4 linked regions of the Homo sapiens genome follow. The protein of the gene in region 4 interacts with the protein of the main gene of each other region in a biochemical or structural test. Each region holds a gene or a part of one and is shown on either strand. Other genes may lie near its edges.

Region 1 (7,181 bases), on a different chromosome or scaffold from region 4:
TCATCCAGGAAAAGAACAAAAGAATATAAAGTCAAAAGACAACAACAAACTGAAAGAAATATTTACCACTCATATCACAGATTAATTTCCTTTATAGCTCCCCAAGAAGAAAAAAAACACCTAATTTTTTAAATGAGCAAAGGATATAAAAATCTCTCTTAAAATTATGAAAAGAAGTTTAGGTTCCCTCTTAAAAATAAATATGGGCCCAGTGCATTGGTTCATGCCTATGGGACGCTGAGGCAGATGATCGCTTGAGGCCAGCAGTGTGAGGCCAGCCTGGGCAACAAAGTGAGACCCCATCTCTACAAAAAATAAAGAAATAAATTAGCTGGGCACGGTGGCAAGCGCCTGTGGTCCCAGCTACACGTGGTCCCAGCTTTTTAAGAGAGGAACCTCATGGAAGCTGAGGCAGAAGGATCATTTGAGCTCAGGAAGTTGAGGCTGCAGTGAGCCATTATGGCACCAAGGCACTCCAGCCTGAGCAACAAGGTGAGAACTTGTCTTAAAAAACAAAAAAACAAAACAAAACAAAAAAAAGGTGGTGGGGGCGGAAATAAACCTACAATGAATTACTACAATAGCAAAGATCAAGGAGTTTCATAACACAGTAGGAGGTCAAGTGTACGGAGAAACACAGATTGCTGATTAAACTATAAACTACTGCCACCTCAACTCAACTGACAGCAATTTGACAATATTAAAATGTACAAGTGTAAATATGCCATTTTTAGGAATTTGCACTACCCATATACTCATACTTGTGATTTATGAGATATCAAACTGTTAATACGAGATGCAGGATTCAAATCCAGGCCAGTCTGTGTTCATTACCATGCTGCTATGCACATACATTTGTATTGTGCACTAAAAGGCTAGAAGCACACATAATGAAAAGACTAGGTTACCTCTGAAAGTGGGACCAGAGTTAAAAGTGATCAGGAGAATTAATTTATTAATATGTATTTAATTAATATGTATTTAATGTACATTTTTTAAGCCTGTTCCCAGAGCCCAGGGTTTCTCAGTACCTGTGTTAACTGAGATGCCTTCGCCTGCCAGCTCAGCCTCTGCAGGCACAGAACTGCTGGCTGGGGCACATCTGCCTCGGTCCTTGTCCTCGTGGTCACTGTCCTCATCCTCACTGCTGCTATAGTAGTACTGCAGTTTCTCCCCCAGCAACTTATCATCAAGGGTGGTCATGGTGTCTGGAAAAAGAAAGCATATCAGGTTCTTTGCTGATTTGAGCCAGACAGACATGAATCTGAAGCATAGGGGGCTCGCCTGTGCTGAGATCCTACAATTTCCAGGACACTAAAGTGATTATTTTCATAACCAAAATCTTAACAAATCCCTACCGTTACCCTGTGTGTTAGGGCTTATCACACTCTTTAACAGAAGGTAAAACTGAAGCTCAGATAAAGGAAGAGTCTTCACCAAGCTTAACAGCGAATGACGGAGCTGGGACCAGACCCCAGGGATTCCTGACTCCAAGAGCCTGAGGTATAAATTACTCTAGTCTGAGTTAAGTGTACAAGCCACCTGCACTGGCTTGGAGGAATCTACTGACTAGTGGTTTTATCTGTGCTTTTAGTTTTCCCACCAGCTAAGACTGCTGCCTAATTGAAAAATTGTTTAAGTATCCTCAGGAAAAACCCCAAAAAGAGGCATCAAGAGTACAATGCTGAGTCACTATTTGTCTAGGCAATCACTCTCTGTCACCAGCCTTCAACTTCCCAGACAACACCCTGAGGGCTTGGATGGATGGTCTCTGAAACGCTACCTATTCTGACAGTTTAAAAGAAGGGCCCATACAAAGATTTTAATAACTCCCAAGGGTTTAAAGGACTATGATGGCCGGGCTCGCGCAGGTAATCCCAGCACTTAGGGAGGCCGAGGAGGGAGGATCACTTGAGACCAGGTATTCGAGACCAGCCTGGCTAACATGGCGAAACTCTTGTCTCTACTAGTAAAAGCAAACAAACAAACAAACAAAAATTAGCCAGGTGTGGTGGCGGGTGTCTGTTTTCCCAGCTACTCAGGAGGCTGAGGCACGAGAATCTCTTGAATCCGGGAGGCGGAGGTTGCAGTGAGCCAAGATCACGCCACTGCACTCCAGCCTGGGAGACAGAGCGAGACTCTGTTTCAAAAAAAAATAAAAACTAAAAATATAAAGGACCAGGCTTCTGCATCAGAAGTAGCCAAGGGCATTCTGATGAAAAGATGCAGCTTAGCCCCCAGAGGCCTGCTTGAGAATTCAGCAGGAATGCGGCTGCCTTAAAGACTTATCACCGGGCCTATCATACTCCATTTACAAAGTGACTCTCTCCCACCGGGCAAGGAGTTCTTGAACGTAGGGACCTCTAGTCACTACCTCTATCCCCAAAGCCCAGCACAATGCCGCTGCACAATTTGCTAAACTCGCAGCCTGGGTCAACGGGAGAATCGGAGGACTCCAGCAGTCAGATGCAAAGGAGACAGGGATCATGGAGAGACAGGTGGAGGTGCCAAGAAGGAACAAAACCAAACTTAAGGCCCAGGAATGGGCCAAGCGGGGGACACAGCAGCGGCGGAGGGGAGGGAAGGAGTTGCGCTCCTAAAGGAGGGACCGCTGCGGGGAGGAGACGAGGGCGGGCCCCCTGGAGACGCGAGCAGAGGAGGCGGGGCCCCCGGACGGGAAGCAGAGGGGTGTGTGGAGCTTTTGGGGGAAGGCTGGAAGGGCCCGGGGGAGGTGGGGCCAGAGGAGGAAAGGGGACGAGGAAGACGCGGAGAACTTGGGGGTCGAGACAGAGCGAAGAAGGGGCAGTTTTACCCAAGCTCGCCAACCCCACTCCCTCCCGTAGTCCGCAGCTGCTGCCGCTTCCCGGTGGACCCCAATGCAGTTACCTGCCCTAGCTCGCTCCGGATCCCTTTGGGCCAGCAGCTCCGGGCGCCGGAAGGAATGGAGCACTTTCTTAAGAGGAAGAGCAGTGGGTCAGCGCCCTGAGCGCTAAAGAGAAAAGCCGCCGAAGCCCGACAGCGCGGACCAATGAGGCGGCCTTCCTGCGTCGTGGCGGACGCGCATTGTCCAATCAGAAGCCGCTACTCCCAGCTGAGGGGCAGGGGAGAAGCTACGGGTCCTACCTTGGAACAAAACACCTCGACAACAACGCTCTCCTAATTGCTTTGTTTTGGTTTTAATCTGCACAACAAAAAAGTGAATTGTATGACCCAGCGTCAAGCAATAAGAAAAATGTATTCACAGGCCGGGCGCGGTGGCTCACGCCTGTAATGCCAGCACTTTAGGAGGCCGAGGCGGGCGGATCACTTAAGGTCATGAGTTCAAGACCAGCCTGGCCAACACGTTGAAAACCCGTCTCTACTAAAAATACAGAAATTAGCCGGGCCTGGTGGCCGACGCCTGTAATCCAAGCTACTCGGGAGGCTGAGGCAGGAGAATCGCTTAAACCCAGGAGGCAGAAGTTGAAGTGGGCCGAGATCGCGCCACTGCACCCCAGCCTGGGCGACAGAGCGAGACTGTCTCAAAAAAAAAGAAAGAAAGAAAAGAAAAATGTATTCACTTCCCTTCGAAGTTTCCGAAGCCATTCAAAGTGTGTTTTTTATTGGTTCTTCATCGCATCACGTCTATTAGACGGAAAAGTGACTCAGAGACGTTCGGTAATTTGCCCGAGAGCACAAATCCCTCAAGTACAGGGCATAGATTAAAATATATATATATATTTTTTTGACGGAGTTTCGCTCTTCTTGCCCAGGCTGGAGTGCAGTGACGCGATCTCGGCTCACTGCAACCTCCGCCTCCCGGGTTCAAGAGATTCTCCTGCCTCAGCCTCCAGAGTAGCTGGGATTACAGGCGTCCGCCAGCAGACCCGGCTAATTTTTTCTATTTTTAGTAGAGACGGGGTTTCACCATTTTAAAGAAGCGGCAGCCAGGAGTGGTGGCGCGCGCCTGTAGTCCCAGCTACGCAGGAGGCTGAGGCGGGAGGATCGCTCAGCCCAGGACTTGGAGGCCAGCCTGGGTGACAGAGCAGGAATGTAATGTGAAATCCGGAATTGGCTCCTGGTATAGAAAAAGGACATGGGGCCGGGTGCGGTGGTTCACTCCTGTAATCCCAGCACTTTGGGAGGCCGAGGCGGGCAGATCACCTGAGGTCAGGAGTTCGAGACCAGCCTGGCCAACATGGCGAAACCCCGTCTTTACTAAAAATACAAAAATTAGCCGGGCATGGTGGTGCACACTTGTAATCCCAGCTACTCGGAGGCTGAGGCAGGAGAATCGCTTGAACCCGGGAGGCGGAGGTTGCAGACAGCTGAGATCGCACCACTGCACTCCAGCTTGGGGGTCAAGACTGAGACTCCGTCTCAAAAAAGAAAAATAAAAAGGACATGAATGGGACAACTGACGAAATTTGAATAAGGCCTATTAATTCATATTAGTAGTATTGTATCAATAGTTTTAATAATTATACTATGTAAGATGTGAACTTTTGGAGATTCTATTAGATGAAGAATCTAGGGAAGCACTATCCTATTTTTGCAACTTTGTTTTCTTCTTCCAGGGTAAAGCCATACTATGATATTTTGCAACTTTTTTTTCTTTTTCCTCAGGCATACTTTGTCGTCTGTTTTTGCAACTTTTTTAAAACCTAAAATGATTTCAAATTCTGAGCCCTTGTTGAAGTATCCAATACACAACCGTGAAGTTGCTCATAGAAAGCTTTGGGTAAATTGAATCATAGAAAATATTCTAGAAAGATACACTGTTTAAAATAGGGCTCTTAATTTGGGGTAGGGGATCTTAATTTGTGGTTCTAGGACCACCTGAAATTGTCTGCAAATTTCTGTACCTGCCTGTTTTCAGAGAGGCTGTTTGCTGAGGCCCTCAGAGGAGTCAAAAAATACCACACACAAACACACACCCATTCAAGAATACTGTATTAATAAGTCCGTTTTCATACTGCTGTAAATAAATAACCCAGTGTCAGGCAGTTCATACTGCTATAAAGAACTGCCCGACACTGGTTTATTTATTTATTTATTTATTTAAGACGGAGTCTTACTCTGTTGCCAAGGCTGGAGTGCAGTGGCGCAATTCTCGGCTCACTGCAATCTCCGCCTCCCAGGTTACAGGCTCCCGCCACCACGCCCGGCTAATTTTTGTATTTTTTAGTAGAGACGGGGTTTCACCGTGTTAGCCAGGATGGTCTCGATCTCCTGACCTCGTGATACACCCGCCTCGGCCTCCCAAAGTGCTGGGATTACAGGCGTGAGCCACCGCGCCCGGCCATATTCAACCTTTTTTAAAAAAAGTAGAAATGGGGTCTTGCTATGTTGCCCACGTTGGTCTCAAATTCAGACCTTTTAATATATTCAGTCTCCTGGTTGTATAGATATAGTGATGTCTTTGTTGGGAATGTAGCTTGCATCTGTCAGGAATATGTGTACATGAGTTAGCTATCTAATAATATCCAACAGAACCACTCATTTTTCCTGTTAGAAATGTGGAATGGGCCAGGCATGGTGGCTCACACCTGTAATCCCAGCACTTTGGGAGGCCGAGGTGGGCAGATCACGAGGTCAAGAGATCAAGACCATCCTGGCCAATATGGTGAAACCCCGTCTCTACTAAAAATACAAAAATTAGCTGGGCATGGTGGCGCACGCCTGTAGTCTCAGCTACTGGGGAGGCTAAGGCAGGAGAATCGCTTGAACCCAGGAGGTGGAGGTTGCAGTGAGCTGAGATTATGCCACTGTACTCCAGCCTGGCAACAGAGTGAGACTCCGTCTCAAAAAAAAAAAAAAGAAATGTGGAATGATGTGGATAATGAAGTTTCTGTTTAATGAGCATACTGTATGTAATTTATAGTTTTAAAGGTATTTTACCGCTACTGTAAGGTTTTTGTTGGGCTGTTTATCAGTAGAGTATATTAAAGGTATTCCCTAGTGGGGAAAACAACCCATGAGCTGTCTTGTGACGGCTAAAGCATTTATCTTTAAGCAAGGGAAACCTTGATCCAACCAGATTTATAGGCTATTTTTAAAAATATTTAAAATTTTGAAGTAACTGAATGAAATTCATATATAAGTGATTAAATAGGCCGGGCACGATGGCTTATGCCTGTAATCCCACCATTTTGGGAGGCTGAGGCAGGCAGATCATTTTAGGCCAGGAGTTCAAGACCAGCCTGGCCGACATGGTGAAACCCCATCTCTACTAAAGATACAAAAATTAGCCGGGCTGAGTGGAGCATGCCTACTGTAATCCCAGCTACTTGGGAGGCTGAGGCAGGAGAATCACCTGAACCCGGTAGAAGGAGGTTGCAGTGAGCTGAGATCATGCCACTGCACTCCAGCCTGGGAGACAGAATGAGACTCCATCTCCACAAAAAAATAAATAAATAAATAGCTAGATAAATAAATAAAATAAATGATTAAATTCCTTGAAGCATGAGTTCCAAGACTTGATCCACTCTTACAGTTTTTCCAAATCATAACAGAGGCAAAACAAGATTTGGTCTTACAATGAGTTTCTCATGTTAGATTTTTTCTACCAATATTTTTGTAAATTTAGAACAAATTTGTCCTGTTACTTTATTTTTTCTATAAGAATTAAAGGTCCAGAGATGATTTTGAATGACACCAAACCATATGAGGACTGTTTGAGATAAACAGCTTGCCCATCTGTCTTGTCTTTTCTTTCTTTTTCTTCATTTCCTGAATTCTTTTATTTTTCTTTTCCTTCCCTTCCTTTCTCTTCCCTTGTGCCTTTTCTGCTCCCTCTCCTTTTGTCCTTTCCCCTCCCTTGTTTCTCTTTCTTTCTCTCTCACCTTAACTTTCCTTCTCTGGTGGTGGTGGTGGTGTGTGTATGGCAGGGTGTTCCATCTGTTGCAACAGAATGTCTTTCTTATTTAAAAATCAGATTAAACAACCTTTTTTTTTTCTTTTTTGAGACAGAGTCTCGCTCTGTCACCCAGGCTGGAGTGTAGTGGTGCGATCTCGGCTCACTGCAACCTCCGCCTCACAGTTTCAAACAATTCTCCTGCCTCAGCCTCCTGAGTAGCACACGCTCCTGATTACAGGCACGCGCCACCACACCCGGCTAATTTTTGTATTTTTAGTAGAGACAGGGTTTCACCATGTTGGTCAGGCTGGTGTCGAACCCCTGACCACATGATCCGCCCACC
Region 2 (7,876 bases), about 35 Mb from region 4:
TTTCCATTTCTGAAAAAGAGGCTGTTGGAATTTTGATAAGGATTGTGCTAAATCTGTAGATCAATTTGAATTATATTGACTAACACTGTTAAATCTTCCTATCCTTGAATACGAAATGTCCTTTCACTTATTTAGGACTTCTTTAATTTCTGTAAGCAACATTTTGTACTTTTCAGTATATGAGTCTTTTACCTCCTTGGTTAGATTTATTCACAAGTATTTAATTCTTTTTTTTTTTTTCTGAGACGGACTCTCGCTCTGTTGCCCAGGCTGGAGTGCAGTGTCGCAATCTCAGCTCATTGCAACATCCGGCTCCCGGGTTCAAGCAATTCTCCTGCCTCAGCCTCCCAAGTAGCTGGGATTATAGGCACCCACCACCACGCCCAGCTAATTTTTATATTTTTAGTAGAGACGGGCTTTCACCATGTTGGTCAGGCTGGTCTCGAACTCCTGACCTTGTGATCCACCCATCTTGGCCTTCCAAAGTGCTGGGATTACAGGCATAAGCCACCGCACCCAGCCGTATTTAATTATTTTAGATGCTATTGTAAATGGTATTACTGTTTTAATTTCCCTTTCAGGTTATTCATCACTGGTATATAGAAACACAACGGATAATTTTCTCATTTTTGGGAGGGAAGAAATTGAGGCTCAGAATAAGTTGCTCAAAGGTGCATGGCTAGTAAGGCCCAACTCAGGGCTCTTAATTCTGAATCTATCGTGCTGTCTCTCTGAAGAGGTTGCTTATTGGGCCCCTTTACCATTTTGCCCTTTCCCTTTGACTCAATGCTCTTAATTGCAAAATAGGAAGCACTGGGAAAAGAAAGAACTGGAGCACAGCCGGGTGTGGTGGTTCACACCTGTAATCCCAGCACTTTGGGAGGCCGAGGTGGGCAGATCACCTGAGGTCGGGAGTTGGAGAGCAGCCTGGCCAACATGGTGAAACCCCATCTCTACTGAAAATACAAAGATTAGCTGGGCATGGTGGCAGAAGTCTGTAATCCCAGCTATTCCGGAGGCTGAGGTAGGAGAATCGATTGAACCCAGGAGGCGGAGTTTGCAGTGAGTTGAGATCGCACCACTGCACTCCAGCCTGGGCAACAGAGCAAGACTCCATCTAAAAAAAAAAAAAATTGGAGCACTGCAACAGTTATGTTCCGAATTTTGCCAGTGTAACAACTGAACCACAGGAGGCAGCCATGGTCTCAGTGATACCCATGGATACGTTCACATCAACCCTCTTTGACTGGAGGGCCCACAGGCAAATGACAGTCAACATTGAATTTGTGACCTCAAAATGCCAAAATACTTTATGAGAATGACTCAGAAATCAAGAAGCTACTTGTAACAAATCAAGTACTGAAATGCATTGTCAACACAGGACAGCCTCTCATCCCTGAGAAAAGGATTGTGTTAGGACATGCAGTTGAGGCTAAGACTCTTGAGGAACTGGGTGGGGTGTGGCTCAGGCTTGCTTGGGAGAGAAGCACTTTGCAGCCTGCCACCAGGCTGGAGACCTGAGTGTGCCAAGTCACTCTGCGTAGTCTAACAGACACTGGCAGTCTTGTATGTCTACAGGAGGGGATGCATGAACTTTCTCCAGGAACCTGAATACCATTCACGAACGACTGGGAAATTCCCTCTCCCCAGTCCCCACTGAACAGTTTCCTTCTCTCAAATGACAGGATTCCTGAATCTCTTTCTACTTCCTTCTATATCTAGGAGATAGCACATCGCTGCAGCTGTCACTAATGGGAACGTGGCCTGATAGCTGTGGACAGTACTAGCAGCATTTTCTCAGTCTGCCTTCCTGCTACCCTTTGCTAGGCCAGCAGGATTCCCACAAGGGAATACTGAAGTCTGATGAATAGGAGCACATGTGTGCATGAGTGTACACACACACACACACAAACACACACACACACAGAATTGAGAACTTATGGTATATTCTCCCCTCAAGAAGGGAAGAGCATTCTGGCTGGAAGATAGTGTCTTAGGATAGCCTCAATTTACCTCTGCTATCTCCAATGTGAAGGTATTATATTCCCACAATGCGAATCTTCCTCATACTTCCTGAGAAACCTCACACAAGAAATGGGAGAGCCTATATCCTTGAAGAATTACCTACTGACATTTGGAGTAGAGAAATAAGGGCCTGCCTGAGCACATGTGTAAGTTCTTCCCTAATACATGAAATATTAGGAAAATCCCACAGGGCTTCGAGACTGCCACAACCAGATATTTTACTCTTGCTCACTCAGGAAGGTAAAGAGAAAAGCAAAAACAAACAAAACAACACACACACACAATCAAATAGAAAATAAGTGCAGATAGTTCACAAAGCAAAGCATCGGGTGTGCTATCAGGCTCCAAGGCAGCTTTCTCTACAGCTTGGACTTAGACATGTTATAACAGCCATTTTATTATGTCACAGAAAGAAATAACTGAAGTAGGTCATAACATTTCAAATTATTTTTCCAGTAGGAATATTATGCCCTGATGACATAGTCTAGTTTCACTTCTTCCATAAGTCACCAGAGACTTTCCTTAAAATGGTCCCTTGTCTCCAGCCTCTTGCACTTCATGCCATCCTCATGTTGCCTTATGTATTAGTCTGTTCTCGCATTGCTATAAAGAAATACCTGAGACTGGTCAGGTGCAGTGGCTCACACCTGTAATCACAGCACTTTGGAAGGCTGAGGTGGGTGGATCACTTGAGGTCAGGAATTTGAGACCAGCCGGGGCAACATGGTGAAACCTCGTCTCTACTAAAAATACAAAAATTAGCCTGGCGTGGTGGCATGTGCCTGTAATCCCAGCTACTCAGGAGGCTGAGGCAGGATAATCATTTGAACCTGGGAGGTGGAGGTTGAGGTGAGCCGAGATCACACTGCTGTGCTCTGAGATCACACCACTGTGCTCCAGCCTGGGCGACAGAGCGTGACTCCGTCTGAAAAAAAAAAAAAATACCTCAGACTGGGTAATTTATAAAGAAAAGAAGTTTAATTGGGTCACAGTTCAGCAGGCTATACAGGAATCATAGCAGCTTCTGCTCCTGGAGAAGCCTCAGGAAACTTCTAATCATGGTGGAAGGCAAAGGGGGAGCGAGACATCTTACATGGCAGGAGCAGGAGGAAGAAGCGGGGAGGTGCCAAACCCTTTAAACAATCCTCGTGAGAACTCACTCATTATCGTGAGAGCAGCACGAGGAGGATGGTGCTAAACCATTCATGAGAAACTGCCTCCGTGATCCAGTTACCTCCCACCAGGCCTCACCTCCAACACTGAGGATTACAATTCAACATGAGATTGGGTGGGGATGCAGATCCAAACCATATCACCTAATATTAACCAGTAAAGATTAATATCATTCCCCTAGTCAAAACTTTGAGATTTCCTTACTATCAAGAGAATTGACCCTTAATTCTGTGTGTTATTTGAGGCTTCTTACCAATCAGTTTCCCTACTTATCTATGTCCTTATTCTAACTCCTCCTACTCACACTTTAGTCCTGGATTCAAAACCCACCTCCTCCACTTCTATCCACACTGACCTCTGTCCCCTATTCCTATAGCATACTCACGGTACATCTCATTTTGGCAGCTTATTTATCAAGTGATTACTATGTATGCTCAAGTGAACTAGATGTTTTGTGAACACTAAGAGAATGAGATAAGGTCCCTGACCTGAAGGAGGGAACGTTGCTGTTCTGTCATGCTATGTTTCCTGAGAGCAAGCCATGTATCCACAGGAAAATGGAAGTCTACAGGTTCCTCCAGGATGTCTCTGTGCTATGTACATGCTGGAATTTCAGAAAGACTTGCTAAATTGAATTAAATTCTCTCTCTCTCTCCAATTGATATAGTTGAAGTGCAATAACTAATATGCACTTAAACTGTCCAAAGTAACAGAACTAGTCCACTACCGCTAGGCCATGAGCAAGTCTTCCAGGGGTAAGAAAGGAAAACCCACCCTGGTGTGCAGCCCGATCAGCAACAAGGAAAAAGTTGCTCAGTGCAAGTCTACTCTCCTGTTTGGAGCCTTGTGGTTATGCTGGGTTATACTTGGTTGTGCAGGTGTAAACTGCTGAAGTGGGAAATTAAGTGTGGTGACCAAAAGTGTGATGCTCAAAGGAGTGAGGAAAGGCAAAATGAGCAGAGTGGGGAAGAGGAGCAGCAGAAACCTCCCAGAGCAGATGAGCAGCAGGGCCATCAAAGAAGGACTGGTTTCCTTCTCACATAACCAAGGCCAGTCCCTGGGAACCACAGTTCAGACTTCACATATTTGTAGCAGTAAAGGCTTGATGTTGGCAAGTTTATTTCCCAGACACCTGTTCCCGCAGGTAACAGCAGCCAGAGCAGCTGCCGTGAGTGACTCTGAGGTCGTCTCTCTCAAAGGTCCCGAGCTGGAAGGATTTGGAGAAGCGCAAACCCCAAACCCAGGTTCTTCTCCATGGGGCCCCGGGATACGTTGGAAAATCTAACCAAAGCAGGAAAAACTGGCGGGCCTGGAGAACGGGGCAGAGATGGAACAGAAGTCCCCGTTGACTTCAGGCATCCCCTGTCTTTCCCATCCTGAGCCAGGAGAAAAGTCCGCTTCCTGCAGACGACCTCAGACCAAGCAAGGTGCCCGCCGAGTCTCTCCTTGCAGGTCCGGCCCACGATTTCCACTCATCTCTTTCCCCCGGGCGCGGGGCGGCGGCAGGCGGGGTCACCAGATCCCCCTAGCCCGGGCCCCTCCAGGCGCCAGGGACGCTGACGCTCGCGCTCTTCCTCTCTCGCCTCCCCTCCCCACCTCTCCGCTCCTTCGTCCAGTCCCTCCCCCAGCCTCGGCGCAGGGGGGCCGGGCTTGGCTCCGCGAGGCCCGTGCATTCCAGAGAGCCCAGCGAGCTAGAGCAACAAAGGAGCCGGGTCGCCGGCGGGGAGAGTTCGGGGGGCTGCGGCGCGCTGGGGCGAAGGTGGCTGCTGGGCCGCGGGCTGGCGCGGGGGCGGAGCCGGAGCTGCACTCGCACCCCCGGCCCGCGTCTGGCCTCCCTCGCGGGGCGGGGAGGTGGCTTTAATGGTGGGAGAGGGAATGGGGCTGGGGATTGGGGGCCCAGGGGTCTCCTAGGGCTGAAGACAACTTGGATTGCGAGGCTAGGGCTTGGGGAGTCGTGCATCCCGTTCCGGGCCTCCGCAGCCCAACATGGGCCCCGGGTTCCAAAGTTTGCGAAGTTGGGCGCCGAGGGGCCGGGGCGCGCGGAGCGTCCGGGGGGGCCCGGGCCCGGATTCTCTGGGCGCACAGGTCGCCTGAGCCGCCTCCGCGGCCGCCGAGGTCGTGCGTGTGGCCGGGGGGCTCCGAGGAGCAGGCGGGGGCGCCGGGGCTTTTGCTGAGTTGGCGGGGTTGGCCATGGCCGCTGCCCGCCCAGCGCGGGGGCCGGAGCTCCCGCTCCTGGGGCTGCTGCTGCTGCTGCTGCTGGGGGACCCGGGCCGGGGGGCGGCCTCGAGCGGGAACGCGACCGGGCCTGGGCCTCGGAGCGCGGGCGGGAGCGCGAGGAGGAGCGCGGCGGTGACTGGCCCTCCGCCGCCGCTGAGCCACTGCGGCCGGGCTGCCCCCTGCGAGCCGCTGCGCTACAACGTGTGCCTGGGCTCGGTGCTGCCCTACGGGGCCACCTCCACACTGCTGGCCGGAGACTCGGACTCCCAGGAGGAAGCGCACGGCAAGCTCGTGCTCTGGTCGGGTAAGTGCGGCGGAGCCGGGTCTGGGGGGCGGGAGGTGCCGCGGTAAGATGGGGGCACCCTTGGAAAGAACAGGCTCAGGCCTGAGTTTTGGAGAGGGCGGGGACAGCACCCGGGAGAGTTGGAGGGACAGATCCCGAAACTTTGGGGGCAGGTTACGTGCAGGATGGGACCCTCGGTCATGGGAAAAGGAGGGCAAGGAAGTTGACGAAGCGGGTCACAAAGGGCCTGAGCTGGTGGGTGAGCAAAGGATGGCGGGGATGAGGGGCCCGTGAGGAGGTGGCTCTAAGCCACGGGAAAAGACATTTTGTAAGAAGAGGAGATGCTCCACCTATTCTGGAAGCAGGGTGCCGGGGGATTCAAGGAGGTGTTGAAGACCCTGGGGAAATTGGAGTTGGAGAGGAAAAGGGGAGGGATGACGGAGGAAGAGGTTTAGACATTTGGAGGGAAGGGTAGGGGGACATGATCGAGTGAAGTTTTGAAGGAAAAGAAACCTCCCTAGTGATGAATTATTAAAAGGTAACCAGAAAGTTCTGGAAATCTTGATTTGGGAGACAGGAATGAAGCCTAGAGAACTGTGATCTTGTCTGGCTTTCACGGGAGATTTCATTCAGTTTGTGCATCTGAAAAACCGGCCCTCTGACGCATGCAGGAGGTTATGAAGGAATAAGACCTTTCTAACAGTTATTTGTGTTTTCTTTGGAAATTTGGTTACCGAGGCTGGTCAGGGCTGTGGAAGGACGCTTAAGTCTGGAGTGTTGAGAGCCTGTGGACACTTCCATGGTGGTTTGAAGTCCCAAAGCCCCCTCACTGGAGTGGCAGAGTCTGAAAAACTGCACACTGAACCCAAATGTCCTTCCTTAGCAGTGTGGAGTATACTCTCCCCCACCTGTCACTTTTCTAGATGAGGCTTGGAGGGTGCTGAGGAAGGGAGCTGGCCTTATCAGCCCTCGCTTCTAGCCAGTATGATTCTAAAACTGTCCTGGGAAAAAGAAAAGAAAACCAGGAGCCAGGAGCAGAACTGGGAGCCTCCCTCTTTTGACAGGGCTGGGGTACCCCATCTCTTAGCTCTGCCCAGGGGGCTGGTGAGGACCCTAATGTAGGGAGTGTATGTAGGCCGCCTGTCATTGACAAGTTCTCGGCCTTTGTCAGATGTTGGACAAGGCCATAAGGTTCCTGGCTTGGTGCAGATGCTGGAGGAGGAACTTGGAGGATGGTATCCATGGTACCCATGAGGAAGAGCTGCATCCTTTTTGGGGATCAGGTTCTAAAGTCAGCACAGCACATTAGACAGAAATCATGTGTAAACAACAGTGGCTTTGAAAACTCTGCAGATTACCATAGTGTAAGGTGGATGTGGTTTTGCATATACACTTCTTTTACGATGTTTGCATACATGTGTTACATGTATACTCATATATAAGAATGGGTATACATAGAAGATAAAATAATTGTAATTTTAAAGTTACATTCATGCAAAAGACTGAAATAATAATAATAATAATAAAAAGAACACCAAAGTGAGATTAAGCAAGATTGCTTTGAGCACCACCCAAAATGAGACTTGAGTTTAGGAGCCAGCTGTGTGGAAAGTCCAAATCTCTCAGCACTAGAATCTCACCCAGTTCTGAGTTGCTCATGCTGTCAGAGGATAATCTTTCTGTCCCTCTCTTTATTGATTGTGCAAGGACCCATGGTTTAATTTTCCCAAGTTAAATGCATGTTTGATGTTGCCTCTGTGTAGTTACCATCAGATCAAGGAGGAAGGGTATGAACCTCTTTCCAGCCCATACTCTTGAGAGCAGCTGCTGAGCAGACAGAAGTAGTTTAAGCTGGAACATGTATCAATTAGTACCATCTGCAGGTTGTGCAGGTTGAAATCTCACTATCTGTGCCTTTTGGCAGGGCAGGGTCCTACAGAGATGCCAGCACTGAGCCCAGCACCGTTAGTTCCATTAGTTCACTATGAGTTCTTCTCTGCCACCAACCACCATCCCTCAGCTCATTCCTGTTTCCATATGTGTTCTGGTTGCACTCTTTCTGCTTGGGACTTGCAAGTAGGGCAGAAGCAGGTGTTGGCTTGAGCTGGGTAATGAGTAGGTAGAGTGAACCCAAGCCTCGTGTGAGAATCACAGCCAGGTCAGCTGGTAGCCTCTGGC
Region 3 (7,024 bases), on a different chromosome or scaffold from region 4:
TCATGCCTGTAATTCTAGCAATTTTGGAGGCCAAGGCAGGTGGACCACCTGAGGTCAGGAGTTCAAGACCAGCCTGGCCAACATGGTGAAACCCTGTGTTTACTAAAAATACAAAAACAAACAAACAAACAAAAATTAGCCAGGCTGGGTGGCCGGCGCCTGTAATCCCAGCTACTTGGGAGACTGAGGCAGGAGAATCGTTTGAACCCGGGAGGCAGAGGTTGCAGTGAGCCAAAATCACACTACTGCACTCCAGACTGGGTGATAGAGTGAGACTCCATCTCAAAAAAAAAAAAAAAAATTGGGACCATCACCCTATATACAGTCAACTCACTGACTGAAACATCATTTTTTTGAGACGGAGTTTCACTCTTGTTGCCCAGGCTGGAGTGCAGTGGCACACGATCTCGGCTCACTGCAAACTCCGCCTCCTGGGTTCAAGCAATTCTCCTGCCTCAGCCTTCCGAGTAGCTGAGATTACAGGTGCCCGCCACCACGCCTGGCTAATTTTTGTATTTTAGTAAAGACAGGGTTTCACCATGTTGGTCAGGCTGATCTCAAACTCCTGACCTCAGGTGATCCACATGTCTCGGCCTCCCAAAGTGCTGGGATTACAGGCGTGAGCCACCAAGCCCGGCCGACTGAAATATCGTTATGGGGCTCATCACTATAATCATATTACAGTGTAAATGCTATGACAGAACTTGTATTTAAAGTATTACGTCATTGAAACCAAATGTTTATGAGAATGTGGCTGAACTCAACATACTAAGGATTTCTCTTAAATTTTACACAATACGTTTTGAAACTATTGTCCATGAATTCATTGAACCCATTTTTAGTATGCTTATATTTTCACCTGTACTACTTCTTAAAAGTAACAAGTTCTGTCAATTTACGTCAGCTCTGTAAAATAGCAGGGCATTTCCTTTTACTTAGTCCTAAAACTACCTTCTCTAAGAGGAGCCTCTTGGTTTTAGTACTCTAAGATTTTGTGAACTAAACATTAGAAACATAAATTATGATTATGTAAATTTAAAATCATACACTTAGCCTGTCTTTTCTTACATGACCCACTCAAGCATTATTATCTCTTGGATTTTTTTTTATACGACCACATGTAGTTATCTCTGTGTTACCAAGCCACAGTCCTATGTCACTTTTTTTTTTAAGAGATGGGGTCTTGTTCTGTCGCCCAGGTTAAAGCACAGTGGCACTGCCATCCTTGCTCACCACTGCAGCCTTGAACCCAGTGGCTCAAACGATCTCCGACCTCAGCCTACCAAGTTGCTGGAACTACAGGTATGCACCACCATGCCAAGCTAATTAAAAAAAAAAAATTTTAGAGGTGGGGTCCTTACTATGTTGCCTAGGCCTGTCTTGACATCCTGAGCTCAGACTGTCTTCCCATCTCAGCCTCCTGAGTAGCTGGGATGAAAGGTGTGATCCACCATACCCGGCAGTTTTGTATCACTTAAAGTCACATAACTTGCTTTTGTTTTACCAGAAACAACCCTTTAAATTTACCAGACTTGGTTATATATTATTTTTGGTTACATACAAAAATTTTAAAAATCAATCCCACCATTAAAGGGTTAGAATATGACAACTGGGGATATCAGAATTTCATCCAACAAATGTTTATGAGTGCCTCACAAGCATTACCATCTAGCTTATTTGCTAACTCCGCTTCATAGGACAAAATGTTAACATGTGCAATTACCATAGTCACGGAAAAGTAGCTACAATTTCTTATGTTCACAGCTTTAATAAAAGTAAAATATCTTATGGCTGGGCACAGTGGCTCATGCCTGTAATCCCAGCACTTTGAGAGGCTGAGGCAGTTGGATCACCTGAGGTCAGGAGTTCGAGACCAGCCTGGCCAACATGGTGAAACCCCATCTCTACTAAAAATACAAAAATTAGCCAGGTGTGGTGGTGCATGCCTGTAATGCCAGCTACTTGCGAGGCTGAGGCATGAGAATCTTTTGAGCCTGGGAGAAAGAGGTTGCAGTGAGCCGAGATCTCACCACTGTACTCCAGCCTGGGTGACTGAGTGAGACGTCTCAAAAAAACAGGTAAAATATCTTAAAGTTACCAATAAGTAGAAATAGAATACAGCATCCAGTGTCTTTCACTGTAGATTTCATTTTTCTTAACAAAGCCATAATGCCTACCTATAAGATAAAATTTTAGAGGTTTTAGTTAACAAGCAAGTGTACTTATGGTGATACTGTTCTGAGATGAGCAGATATCCATCTCTGCTACCTCAGGATGACACTTCATTTACAAAAATACTATACAATTACTGTCTCAGGTTTAGATTAGCAGCTAATTAATAACTGAAGTTATTTGGGATTCTATCCCATCCCCAATTCTCTACCCCACCACTAATGTTCTCGGAATCTATCATTCAAAGGGTCTTATCTCTACCATGCAGTTCGAATAGAATATTCATTTTTAGTTACATTTAGTCCCATTTAGTTTTGTTCTACTGCTGATTTTCCTATTCACGTTTTTATCCTACAACACTCTCTATCACATATACCAAGACTGCTCTTCAATGCCTTAAGGGAACACACAATCCCCCCGATTCTTCAGCATCCTCTCATAATCTGTCTCATCATTTCTAAAACCTTTGCAAAGATTTTTTTGCATTAAAAGGTGAGTCAACACATAAACATGAATGAAATTTACATACTAACCTATCTCTATTTTCTTTATGTCTTACAGCCAGGAGGAGTCTGTGGTTTTTTCATTTTTTTCCCCCCAAAGAGTTTCCCTGGTGATATATTCAATAATTAATGAACCAAATGAAATCTCCTGTTCATAAATTTTAATTCCCATAGTAAGGTTAACACAAACCATGAAAACTAATATCTAAGTTTAAAATTTTTAATTACTAAGTTTTTTGTTTTTTAGACCACACGGCAAGGAGATCACATTTTTCAGGGTGTTTTTTTTTTTTTTTTAACCTCTCAACCGCTTCCCTAGAGCCCTTTTAATACGTAATACAGATAACTAAGATCCCTTGTTGACAAATTTCAATTTCCTCAAGTACTTAACTGCCTACCATGTTCCATTTAAATACACAGTTTCATCGGCACGGTGGCATGCACCTATAGTCCCAGATACTTAAGAGGCTGAGATGTGAGGATTGCTTGAGCCTGGGAAGTCAAGGCTGTAGTAAGCCATGATCGTACCACTGCACTCCAGTCTGTGTGACAGAGAGAGACTCTGTCTCAAAAAGTATATACATGCATACATATATAATTTAATTTGCAGAATTCTAGAATGTCTTAAATTATTTCCTTATAAAAACTAGCCACGGTAAGCCTTTTTAACTATCCTAAACATAATGTATATAATTTACGTCACATGCCAATTAGACATAAAACCTCATTCAGCTTAAGCTGCCTTACTGGGTTTTTAATTTCACTTACCAAGTAGTTAATGACAAATTTTCATATTTTAAACAATCTCTGGGTAAAGGTGTTTAGTTGAAAAACTGAATATAAAAATAAGGAGAAAAAAAATGAGTCAAGCCATTGCTAAGTGTTGCCATTAAAAAAAAAAATTAAAAATCCTATATAAGAGCCTAGCAATTATTAGTTCTTTGAGCATAGAGGCCATTGTCCTCATCTTGTCCCTCCCAAAGTAGTATTCTCTCTTTCTTCAGCTATAGAGAAATTGATAGAATCTGTTCCATAGAGAAAGTAGATTTCATTAATTTCTCCACAGCTGAAAATTCATGACAAGCTAAAAGTAAGAGAGTAGAAACAGTAAGGCCTCTAAAAAGAGTACTTTATACTTTTTTTTCCTTTCTTTCTTTTTTTAAGACAGGGTCTCCTCTGTCACCCAGGCTGGAGTGCAGTGGCATGATCATAGTTCACTGCAACCTCTGCCTCTTGCGCTCAATCAATCTTCCTACCCTAGCCTTCCGAGTAGCTGGAACTACAGGCGTACACCACCACGCTTGGCTAATTTTTGTATTTTTTTGTAGAGATGGGGTTTCACCATGTTGCCCAGGCTGGTCTTAAACTCCTAGGCTCAAGCAATCTGCCTGCCTCAGCCTCCCAAAGTACTGGGATTACAGGCATGAGCCACTGCAACTGGCCAACACTTTTGCATAATAGGTAAGAATTAATGTTTAAGGATATTCATTAACCAATTGTATATATGACAACAAATTAAAAATATAAATAGGAGAGTAGTTATGATGCATTCATACAGTGAAATATTATGCAGCTATTAAGAAGACAGCGCTCTGACTTGCAGAGATACTAAGAATAATGATATCTTCTGAGCGAATTCTTTTTTAGAGGGTTCCTACTGCAAGTAAGACAAGCATCTCAGTGGGAGTTTGTCCTTACCCAGTAAGGTATACTACATTTCTTTTGTAATAACTACACAGTATATGAACAAACCCTGCTAAAGCCAAAAGTGGAGGAACAATTAAGCTGTTACTGCCATAAATATGAAATATAGACACTAAGAGAAACTTTATATTATTTCAGCAAGTCAGTAGCATCTGAGTGTAGAAACATTTCATGTGATTTCTATTTCAAAAAAGATAAAATAACACATCTTTCAGCAATTCTGGAAGAAAAGGCTCTCTATAAACATACTGGAAAATGGAACTGAGGAACACACACTGTGAACTTACCAAGCATTTTTCTGTCCATAACTATTGCTCCAAAGGAAATTCTCCGGTCCCTGTACCATCCACACGACCTTGGCACAAAGGTGGTAGTGAAGCATGAAGATTTAGGGCACTGACTCTGGTCCTCCACTGCTGGAGTTTGAACACTGGCTTCACCACTTGTGTACGTTAACCGACACATGGTAGTCAATAAAGGTTCACTGAAATTATTACTACAGTTGAGAGAAAGAGGTCTTTGAACTAAAGATGGAAAAATATTAAAATACTTCAAGGGACAGAAGTATATTTAAGCAGGAATTCTTTTAAGAGATCCAAACATTTTGGGTGTGCTCAATAGGTTATTTTTTCATCCTAAGCCAGATCTCTCTTCAAATCTGTGGCTCATTTTCTTTTCATTCTTTCTAATCGTATTGTAATTATTCAGGAGGCTTAACTAAAGTTAAAATTTTCAAATCTATTTTTTTTAAGTTAATTATCCAGTTTGTGATCTAGGTTCTTGTATTTTAGTTTCTTCTTGACCTATTCTACTCACTTGCCGCTTATTATCATCACTCCACCAGAGGGCATACAAAAGAAAGGTGATAACGTGAAAACACTCAAAGTTGGTAACTTGTTAGCTTTCAGAGAAGCTGTAGCAGCATCACCAAACACCTTACGTAGCACTAACGCTGTAAGATTCTCTGGAAACCGTCTTCTCCATTTGAAACGGCATTAGCTAAGATACAACAAATATTAATTCATGCATTCATTCCTTCATTCAACAAATATCTGAGTCCCGACCATGTGCCAAACATATTCTAGGCTCTAGAGATTCGGTAGTAAACAAAACAAAACTTCCTATTGCCACAGTGCTTTGTTCTGTATCTGTCTAGGAGATAAATAATACAGCACATCAATAACATAATTTTAAGTACAGATAAGTCGTATGCAAGAAAAAAACTGCAAGAACTTCAAGAGGTTAGAGGGTGACGAGGAAGGCTATTTTCAAATAAATTAAGTAAGGACTGAATGAAATGAGAGGATGAGCTATGTCTTCATTGGGAGAAAGCATTACAGGCAGAACAGCAAGCAAAGGCCCAGGCAGAAACTAACCTGACATGCTGGACCTACAGCAGTGACGATGGCGAGGCTGGAAGAGAGTGAGCAGGGCAGAGAGCAGCAGATGAGACTAGAAGGGTGTGCCAGAGCCCAGTCACCGTCTCTTGATCATGGTATTAAAAAAAAAAAAAAAAAAAATCCTGATTTTTTTTCAGATGGGGTCTCACTCTATTGCCCAGGCACAAACATGGCTCACTGCAACTTTGACCTCCTGGACTCAAGCAATCCTCCCGCCTCAGACTCCCATGTAGCTGAGACCACAGATATGCACCACCACGCCTGGCTAAAACGTTTTTATTTTATCTAACAATAATGGGTTCTGACGACTGAGATATAACCTGCTTTGATTTACCTCTTTTAAAGTTCATGCTGGCTGGTGGGAGACAGAGAGTGGAAGCTGACAAACCAGTTGGGGGGCTCCTGCAGTCATCCAGGCCAGGGAAGAATACAGTTTGACACCAGGGTGGTGGTGGTGGCAGTGCAGGTGATAGGAATGGTCAAATTAACTTTTTAAAAAAGATGGTCCAATCTGCAGTGATTTTGAAGGTAGAGCCCATAATACTTGCTGTTGAAGGAATAGATTTAGAATGAGTGAAATGGGGAATTAGAATTTTTAGCCTCAGCAACTGGTGGATGGTGGTACCATTGACTGAGATGGAGAAGAATGAGAAACTGTAGCCAATGAGGCAGGATGAAAATCAGAAAGAGCGGTGTCCCAGAAGCCAAGGGGAAACGACATTTTGATAGGGAAGGAGTTATCTGTTGCCTGTGTCAAATGTGGCTGAAGATCCAGTTTGGCAAGACTGACATCCCTGGTGACCTGGAGAAGAATTGTTTCATGGAGTAGGAGGGATAATGTGTCTCTGAAGCGGGTTCAGAAGAAGATGGCAGATAAGGAGTAGAGACAGCCTACATGGAGTCCCTTCAAAGATTTTCTTTTTGAAGCAAAGCTGCATTGTTATTGTTTGAAGTTTTATTTTTAACTTTTCATTTCTCCCAGTGCTGGGATTACAGGTGTGAGCCACCGCGCCTGGCCTGTTTCATGTTTTCATTTCTCTTCTTCCACGTTGGAAACCCTAGTTCCCAAAATATCAATGAATTTACTCATTTGCTCAATCCTATAATGCACACAAAATAGTTTCAGAATTGCTACACCTCTACCATACAAATAATAGCCTACTACACAGAGTTCAAGATTATTTTTTCAGTTCTTTAATCTTTAATCCTGTGCTCAAAACTTACTTGGTTTTTTTTTTTTTCTTC
Region 4 (7,368 bases):
AGCATCCAGCACAGGAGAAAGATGTAGGCTGGGAAGCTAAGCCAGTCTAGCCTTTTCACCTTCTTCTGCCTGCTTTTTAATCTGCCTGCACTGGCAGCTGACTAGATTGTGCCCGCCCAGATTAAAGATGGGTCTGCCTTTTTCAGCCCACTGACTCAAGTGTTAATCTCCTTTGGCAACACCCTCACAGACACACTCAGGATCAATACTTTGCATCCTTCAATCCAATCAAGTTGACATTCAGTATTAGCCATCACAGTACCTAAATTATATTTATAAAATACAAAAAATCAGCAAATTATATAGACTAAATACAATATGAAAATATTCACCATGACTATACATAATGAAATAGATTTATGTATAGAATTACCACGGACATAGCAGCCGAGAATAGATACACATATATCAAGCCCATGCCTACATAGAGTGATATGATTTTCTGAAAGAGAAACAAAAATTATTGGTTAATGGTCTTCCTTTTATTTATATGCATTATTGTAAAAAGTGTATATAATAACCAAGAAAAATATTTTGTTTCTATGTAAAATGAAGTGAGTTTCAAGGTTCAAAGAACTATAAATATGGCTTTTGCATATGTGGAAGCCTGGCATATCTGACAGTCATGCTGAATGTGTCACATTTCATCTTATGCTGCAGGATCCCAGAAAATGCAAGATATCTGACATTCCTTATCCATACCCACAAAAATTATGGAATACTGTTATAAACAAGCTGACATATTTTCATGAGGGCCCCTAGGGGGCAGTATTGCCCCCATTGAGAACCAGGGATCTATGGATGGGATACAACTCAGAAATACTTCCCCCACTCCCACCCTCCTCCTGCCTTTTATTGGACCTTAGATACTCTGATGGTAGTGCAGGATGGAGGAAGAAGTGAAAGGGCAAACATCTCCTTAACTAGGGTATGCTTTCCCCCAGGCTGGCTGTAATAGCAGTCTTAGCTTGTTTGTCTATAGATCTTCACTCTTCCCCTTAAATTTTGACTAAAGTTGGGGTGGGGATGTTTGGCAATAGGGATAATAATCTGACCTAGTCTCTTAGGACTTTTTTGTGGAGAAGTGGACCAACCTGAAAGCTTAGAATATGAGGGGCAGCTTTAGTGCTATTTGTCATCAACTCCGGACTTTCTATGTAATTCTGGGGTATGAAGAAAGAAATCCACTCCTTTACACTAGTTTGAGAGAGACGTGCTGGAATGAAAAACACCTCAGTTCAGACATGCTGGAATGAAAAACAAACACCTGTATTGTAACCTCAGCTCCACTGCCTCTCATTGTTTAATTTAGGGCATTCAAACTCCCTGGAATGCCTTTGCCTCATCTGCAAAATGGAATAGGGAGTAAAGTAGATGATATTAAATTTGAATTATTTGAACCATTGACTTCAATATAACACTAAACATTTGGAATCTCCATGCAGACAATATTCACTGTTCTTCTTTGTGTCCTTGAAATAAGTGAAAATTTTGGTCCTCTTTTTTTCTCATATAAGACCTGTGCCATCAAATTTGGTAAGAATTCTAGAATCTTCTAATAATATGTTTGCCCTAAATAAAGTGTTTTAAATGTTTAATATTATTGAGCATGGTGAATCACAGCATTTTAGAGTTAAGAAATCATTTATTGATAAAATGAAGTTAGAAAAATTGGATGTTTTTCTATGTTTAGGTAAATGCATATGACATAGGTTAGGTGACTTTGTCAATACTTCCTGATCTCTTCTATATACCAAACAATATACAGAACAATAGAAAGTAATGAGGACGTAAAAGTCATGCAAGGTATGATCTCCCTTGTAAAGGCTCTAAAAATTCACTGTGTCTTCGGTTGGGTTTGCTAGAAGCAAAGCCTAAGACAGGAATTATTGGGTAAGAAAGTTTTCCAGGGCAAGCTCTCAGGAGAAACTGCTAGAGGAGTAAGGCTAGGGCAAGAGGAGAAGTTAGTCAAAAGTGGTTTCAGAAGTCTAGCATCATTCTAAACCCATGGAAAGGCTCTGGAAGTTTCTCAGTTACAACAAAGTTTTTCAGCCCAGAAGCAAGGGGGCTGGGCTGATAGGACCCCACATTAGCCAGCCTTTTGCTCCAAGTCAACCTCAGGGGTCAGATGGGAGCATAATCTCCCAGGCATCATCAGGAAAAGTGTTGCCCATCAGACAAGAGCCAACCTGAGCAAAAGGTTTGCCCTTGACAGTCAACACCTGCAGCTGCTGCGGACTAGGTATCTTACCCTGGAAAAAAAGGAGAGCTGGGCAGTAACATCTGGAATGCATGATATTAAAGGAGTCAAATTATGTACGCATGATCTCCTTTAAGTGTATCAGTAATATCACCTATCTTCTTTAGAGCACCTATAAGATCACATACATTATATGGCAAGGGCCATATAAGAAAGTACAGTTTGAAATTCTGGAAGCACAACAAAGTGAATAACACCAGCTAACACGTGCAAGTGCTTGCTATGTACTACACGCCATTACAAAGTCCTTACCTATGTTACCCCCATTTAATACTCTCAACAAATCTACAGGGTAGGTAATATTATTGCCCCTATTTCCCTGTAAACTAAGGCACAGGCAGGTCAAGTAATTTGGTCAGTGTCACATGGCTAGCAAGTACCAGTAAACGATTATTTTGTTGGTAAGTATATGAGAGGGCTTCCTGGAATAGAGAAAATGAAATTCTAAACCCAACACAAGATCTACTAAATTAGAATCTCTAAGGTTGGACTCATAACTTTAACGAGTTTCCTAAAGTGATTTCTGCACACACTGGAGTGTGAAGAGCCATTACCTAAAGGAATTAAAAGTTTTCCAAAATGAAGAAAAATTGTGCAAAGAACAATGTCAAAAGGTAAAAATGATCATCAAAAATACTTAATGAAGTTTTATATTTAGTCTAAAAGACTGGGAAGGAAGATGAGAATAAAATTTGGGTTCCCAAATGCAAAACAGGCTTATACAGGAAGAAATAACCTTTGTATAGTCATAGTGTTTCTTAAAGAACAGAATAGCAAAAATAAAAACATAGGACACATTGGGCTCAAGTACCCACAGTGTGTTATTTTCTACCTCTATGTTGGCCTATGTAGACATTTGTCCCTTAAAATTATCTTAAACTTGAGACCATCCTGGCCAACACGGTGAAACTCCACCTCTACTAAAAATAAAAAAATTAGCTGGGCGTGGTGGCATGCACCTGTGGTCCCAGCTACTCAGGAGGCTGAGGCAGAAGAATCGCTAGAACCCAGGAGGCGGAGGTTGCAGTGAGCTGAGATCGCGCCACTTCAGTCCAGCCTGGAGACAGAGCGAAATTCCTACTCAAAAAAAAAAAAAAAAAAAAAAAAATTCTTAAACTACTACTTATCCGGAGAAAAACAAGGTATTTTAAGACTGGGAAGGGAAAGAATCTTCCTTCAATGGTTTTGGAAATGAAAACACCATTTAAATTCAAGGAAATAAGTTAATTGCTGATAGATTATTAGCAGAGTATTTTCATGTAGATGTAAAATGTTATTTTGTTCTCTGAAATAGTATGTGATCTATATACACTTACTTTTATAATAATACTTCATTACAAAAATTGGACTAGGGAGAAGGAGGAGACACTATAGGTACAATGCCATTTGGCTACACTGAAATCTTTCCCAGGCAATTTCATAGGACTATCACCAGCTATTGAGCCTTCTTCCCCATTACTCACTGGTCTAATTGGGGAGAAGAGGAATTGCAAAGAGGGCAGAAGAAAGAGTCTGTTCTAGTAGGAGGTTATTGGTAGATCAGACTTGCTATGTCCCCTTTAGCCTGCTAAATTTTCTCATCATTGTTACCAGATTCATTGTGACAGTTACAGGCAAATTTCATGTGTTGTTGGAAAAACGCTCACAAGTAATACGCTAGTTTATTTCTGATTAATAAGACTGTTTACTATATTTCCATTCTACGGGTACACATTTAAACAATCCATTATTTATAATGAAATTATAGTGATACTTTTTATATGGTTCCCTTTTAATACCAGGTTAAATACTCTAGAGATTTAGGGAATTAATGGACCGTCATCCAAATGACCTCAAATTAAGTTAAATGACATAAAACATAGGTGGAGGGTTTTGGAATTGAAAGTAAGGATTGGAAACCCCAAATTTTACACTATACAAAAGACCAGGGGCAAGGAGGCGCTTTAAGTATTTTAGATTATATACTGACAAAACTCACCCCTCCCAACAAACCTGCTGAACAGGTGTTTGGAGTCAAATGCTTGACTTAATCATATTAGTGAAGATTAGGAAGAAGCTTTAAAATCCCAAGGCTAGTGTGCATTGCTAGAATTGTTAAGAGAGAGAGCTCATATGAAATTGGTTATCGTGGGATATTTAAAATAAAACAAAGAACAGTTTACTTTGTAAGTTAAGAGCTGAGGGAATTGTTGGCTAAGACTGACTTGAAATAACTCCAGCAATTCATGCATAGCTGCTAACCTTCTACATCTTCAGCAGGCAAAAAGATGCCAGTAATCAATATTGAGGACCTGACAGAAAAGGACAAATTGAAGATGGAAGTTGACCAGCTCAAGAAAGAAGTGACACTGGAAAGAATGCTAGTAAGTTGCTGCTTTCTTTAGTATTTTATTTTAAGCTAGAGATACTGTGGGAGTACCAGGTTAGAAAACATTGGCTGGAAAGGCTCAATGTAGTTACAAATAAATTGTTCATCTAAAAATTTATCAAAGATTAAGAAAATTGATAATCAATCATAACTATCTCTTGATTTAGATTCTAAATCAAGGAGGTTGGCAAACCATTTTCCTCTGGCCAAGCCCAATCCTTAGCCTCTTTTTGTATGACCACAAAGATAAGAATGCTTTTTCATTTTTAAAGAGAAGGGAAGAAAGAAAGAAAGAGAGAAAGAAGAGAGAGAGAAAGAAAGGGAAAAAGAAGGAAAGAAAGAAATAAAAGAGAAAGAAAAGAAAAAGAGAAAAAGGAGAATATGAGACAAAAACCATATTTTAGATAAGCAATAAAATAAATATACGCATGCAATAATATAGGCATTTTGTTTTTACTTTTCTAAACTTCTTTTTATAATGCAATATTTTGATATTGATATTTTGATACAATGTTTTGATATTGCTGCAATACTTTAAGCTATGATGTCAACCCCTCTCCACTGTCATGGTCAGTAATACATAAGTACATTCTACTCTTCTTTGGCAAATAAAGATGAGTTCAAACATAAGAACTCACTGGTTCCTCCTACAAACTTCTGACAAATCTTGGAAAGGGTTACCAACAGTTCACTGCCATTAGAAGGAGAAGAAATGGCAAAGGAATAAACCACCAAACAAACAGTGATGAAAGCTTGGAGAATGTAGATATGTATTTTAGATCACTTCATTTTAGGAAAGTTATTAACAGTAGAACAAAACCTCCACAAGTGGTAACAGCAATCTCATAATTTTAAAACATCTCATTTTATCAGGACAAAGTAAAAAAGGATCTTGTGTTATCTTCATACTTTGTTCAAAATGCCTGCTCCCAGTCAAAACTGGGATTTTGGGCTTCGTCTATGTTTATAATAATCTCAAACTCCCCTGTTGCCCTTTCCATACAGGCAAAACGTTTTGCTGTAAAGATAAAATTAAATCATTACTAAGGCTTAGAACATACACCAGACAAGTTAAAGTCCTTATTTTTACAATTCAGGGTAAATAAAATGAACTTTTAGGATAAAGAAAAGTTTTCTCTTCTTAAGTTGAAATATCCAAAAGCTGTTTTATTATTTATGTACTCAGGATTATTGTTTTGTAGGCAAGGTGATTGTCTTCGTGTTTATTATTCACTTGTGGTAAGTTCACCTTGGACTTTTTATTTTGGGTAAACATCGCATACATCATCATTAATCAGGCTTTGGGGTTCCTTTTCCCCATTATTCAATGTCTCTCTGCTCTTGGAAGTCAAACCAATTTAATATCAGACTGCAAAAACTCCATATACATACACACACAAACACACATGCATATAGATACACATACATATACATGTACCCTCTTAGTCTCCTCAGGGTGCTGTACCAGAGTATCATAGACTGGTGACTTTTAACCAACAGAAATGTATTTCTCACAGCTCTGGAAGCTGGGGCATCCAAGATCAAGACATCAGCAGATTCAGCGTCTGGCGAGGGCCTGCTCCCTCCTTCATGAACACCTGTCTTTTCATTTTGTCCTCACCTGGTGATAGGGATGACGAAGCTCTCTGGGGTCTCTTTTATAAGGACGGTAATCCTATTTATGAGAACTCTGTCTTCATGACCTAATTACCTACCAAAAACCCCACCGAGGGAGTTAGGAGTTCAACAAATGAATTTATATAGTGTGTAGAAATATGTATGTAATATATAGAAATATTATTTCTCTATAAAATATATAATAATATGTTATATTATATATAAAATGGAACTTCCAGGTCCTGAGCCCCTAGCTCTGATGTATAATCAGTACAGTATGGTTAAGTGGATATACTCAGTATGGGTAAGTGGTTAAGTGGATAATCAGTACAGTATGGTTAATTGGATATACTCTGAAACCATATTCCCAGCTCAGATTCTTGCTCCACAACAAATTTTTGCCTGTGCAACCCTCATCTATGTTATCTAACTCACCTGTGCCTCTGTTTCTTCAAAATAGCGATAGTAATAGCATTTAATTCAGAGGATAATTGGGAGGAATAAACAAGATAATATACACAAAGCTCTGAGAACAATGCCTGGTAATAGCAAGTGCTTTATGTCATTATATTATTATTATCTTAAAATTATTATTGATTCTATGAACCAGACTGATTCATATTATTGTGATTTTTTTTGAGTACGACAAGTCTTTGCATCCAGTTTCTGAAGCTGATAGATTTGCAATGACTATAAGTCAATGTAATAGGCCATGACTAAAGACAACCTTTGTAGTAATAGCTAAAAATAGTTACTATTTGATTGTGCATCTTCTTGTGCCAGGCACCTCTTAGGCATTTAAGGCAACCAATGCAGCTATTCATATTTTATACATGAAGTAAATGAACCTTAGATGAATTACCTTAACTAAGACTAAATAGCTAGTAAATGAGAAGAGTCTTGCAATCCTATGTTAAACTACATATATTTATATTAAGCATCACTGAAATAATTTTTAAACCTATACACATATATAATTTTAGGTAATTTGTTGCTCCTTTCATTCTCATATCCTCAGATCCCAGCCAGGCACCTTCAAAACCAATCCCTTATGGACTACTGAATTAAGGACAGCAAGTTACACCTCTGTTCCTGTCATCTGGGTGAAGCCAAAAGTAGTGAC

The links.
Region 1: the proteins of GNGT1 (region 4) and PDCL form a complex in vitro, tested with the Homo sapiens proteins (one study listed by BioGRID).
Region 2: the proteins of GNGT1 (region 4) and SMO are reported together in a solved structure, tested with the Homo sapiens proteins (one study listed by BioGRID).
Region 3: the proteins of GNGT1 (region 4) and GNB4 form a complex in vitro, tested with the Homo sapiens proteins (one study listed by BioGRID).

What each region holds. Positions count from the first base shown.
Region 1 is NC_000009.12:122,825,585-122,832,765, forward strand, and holds the start of PDCL (phosducin-like protein), read right to left. Parts: upstream 3,005-7,181; 5' UTR 2,887-3,004; intron 1,209-2,886; 5' UTR 1,204-1,208; coding exon 1,032-1,203; intron 1-1,031. UniProt on the Homo sapiens protein: Acts as a positive regulator of hedgehog signaling and regulates ciliary function.
Region 2 is NC_000007.14:129,183,764-129,191,639, forward strand, and holds the start of SMO (protein smoothened precursor), read left to right. Parts: upstream 1-4,869; 5' UTR 4,870-5,388; coding exon 5,389-5,719; intron 5,720-7,876. UniProt on the Homo sapiens protein: G protein-coupled receptor which associates with the patched protein (PTCH) to transduce hedgehog protein signaling. Binding of sonic hedgehog (SHH) to its receptor patched prevents inhibition of smoothened (SMO) by patched.
Region 3 is NC_000003.12:179,441,468-179,448,491, forward strand, and holds part of GNB4 (guanine nucleotide-binding protein subunit beta-4), read right to left. Parts: intron 1-7,024. UniProt on the Homo sapiens protein: Guanine nucleotide-binding proteins (G proteins) are involved as a modulator or transducer in various transmembrane signaling systems.
Region 4 is NC_000007.14:93,902,220-93,909,587, forward strand, and holds the start of GNGT1 (guanine nucleotide-binding protein G(T) subunit gamma-T1 precursor), read left to right. Parts: upstream 1-4,347; 5' UTR 4,348-4,425; intron 4,426-4,516; 5' UTR 4,517-4,527; coding exon 4,528-4,623; intron 4,624-7,368. UniProt on the Homo sapiens protein: Guanine nucleotide-binding proteins (G proteins) are involved as a modulator or transducer in various transmembrane signaling systems.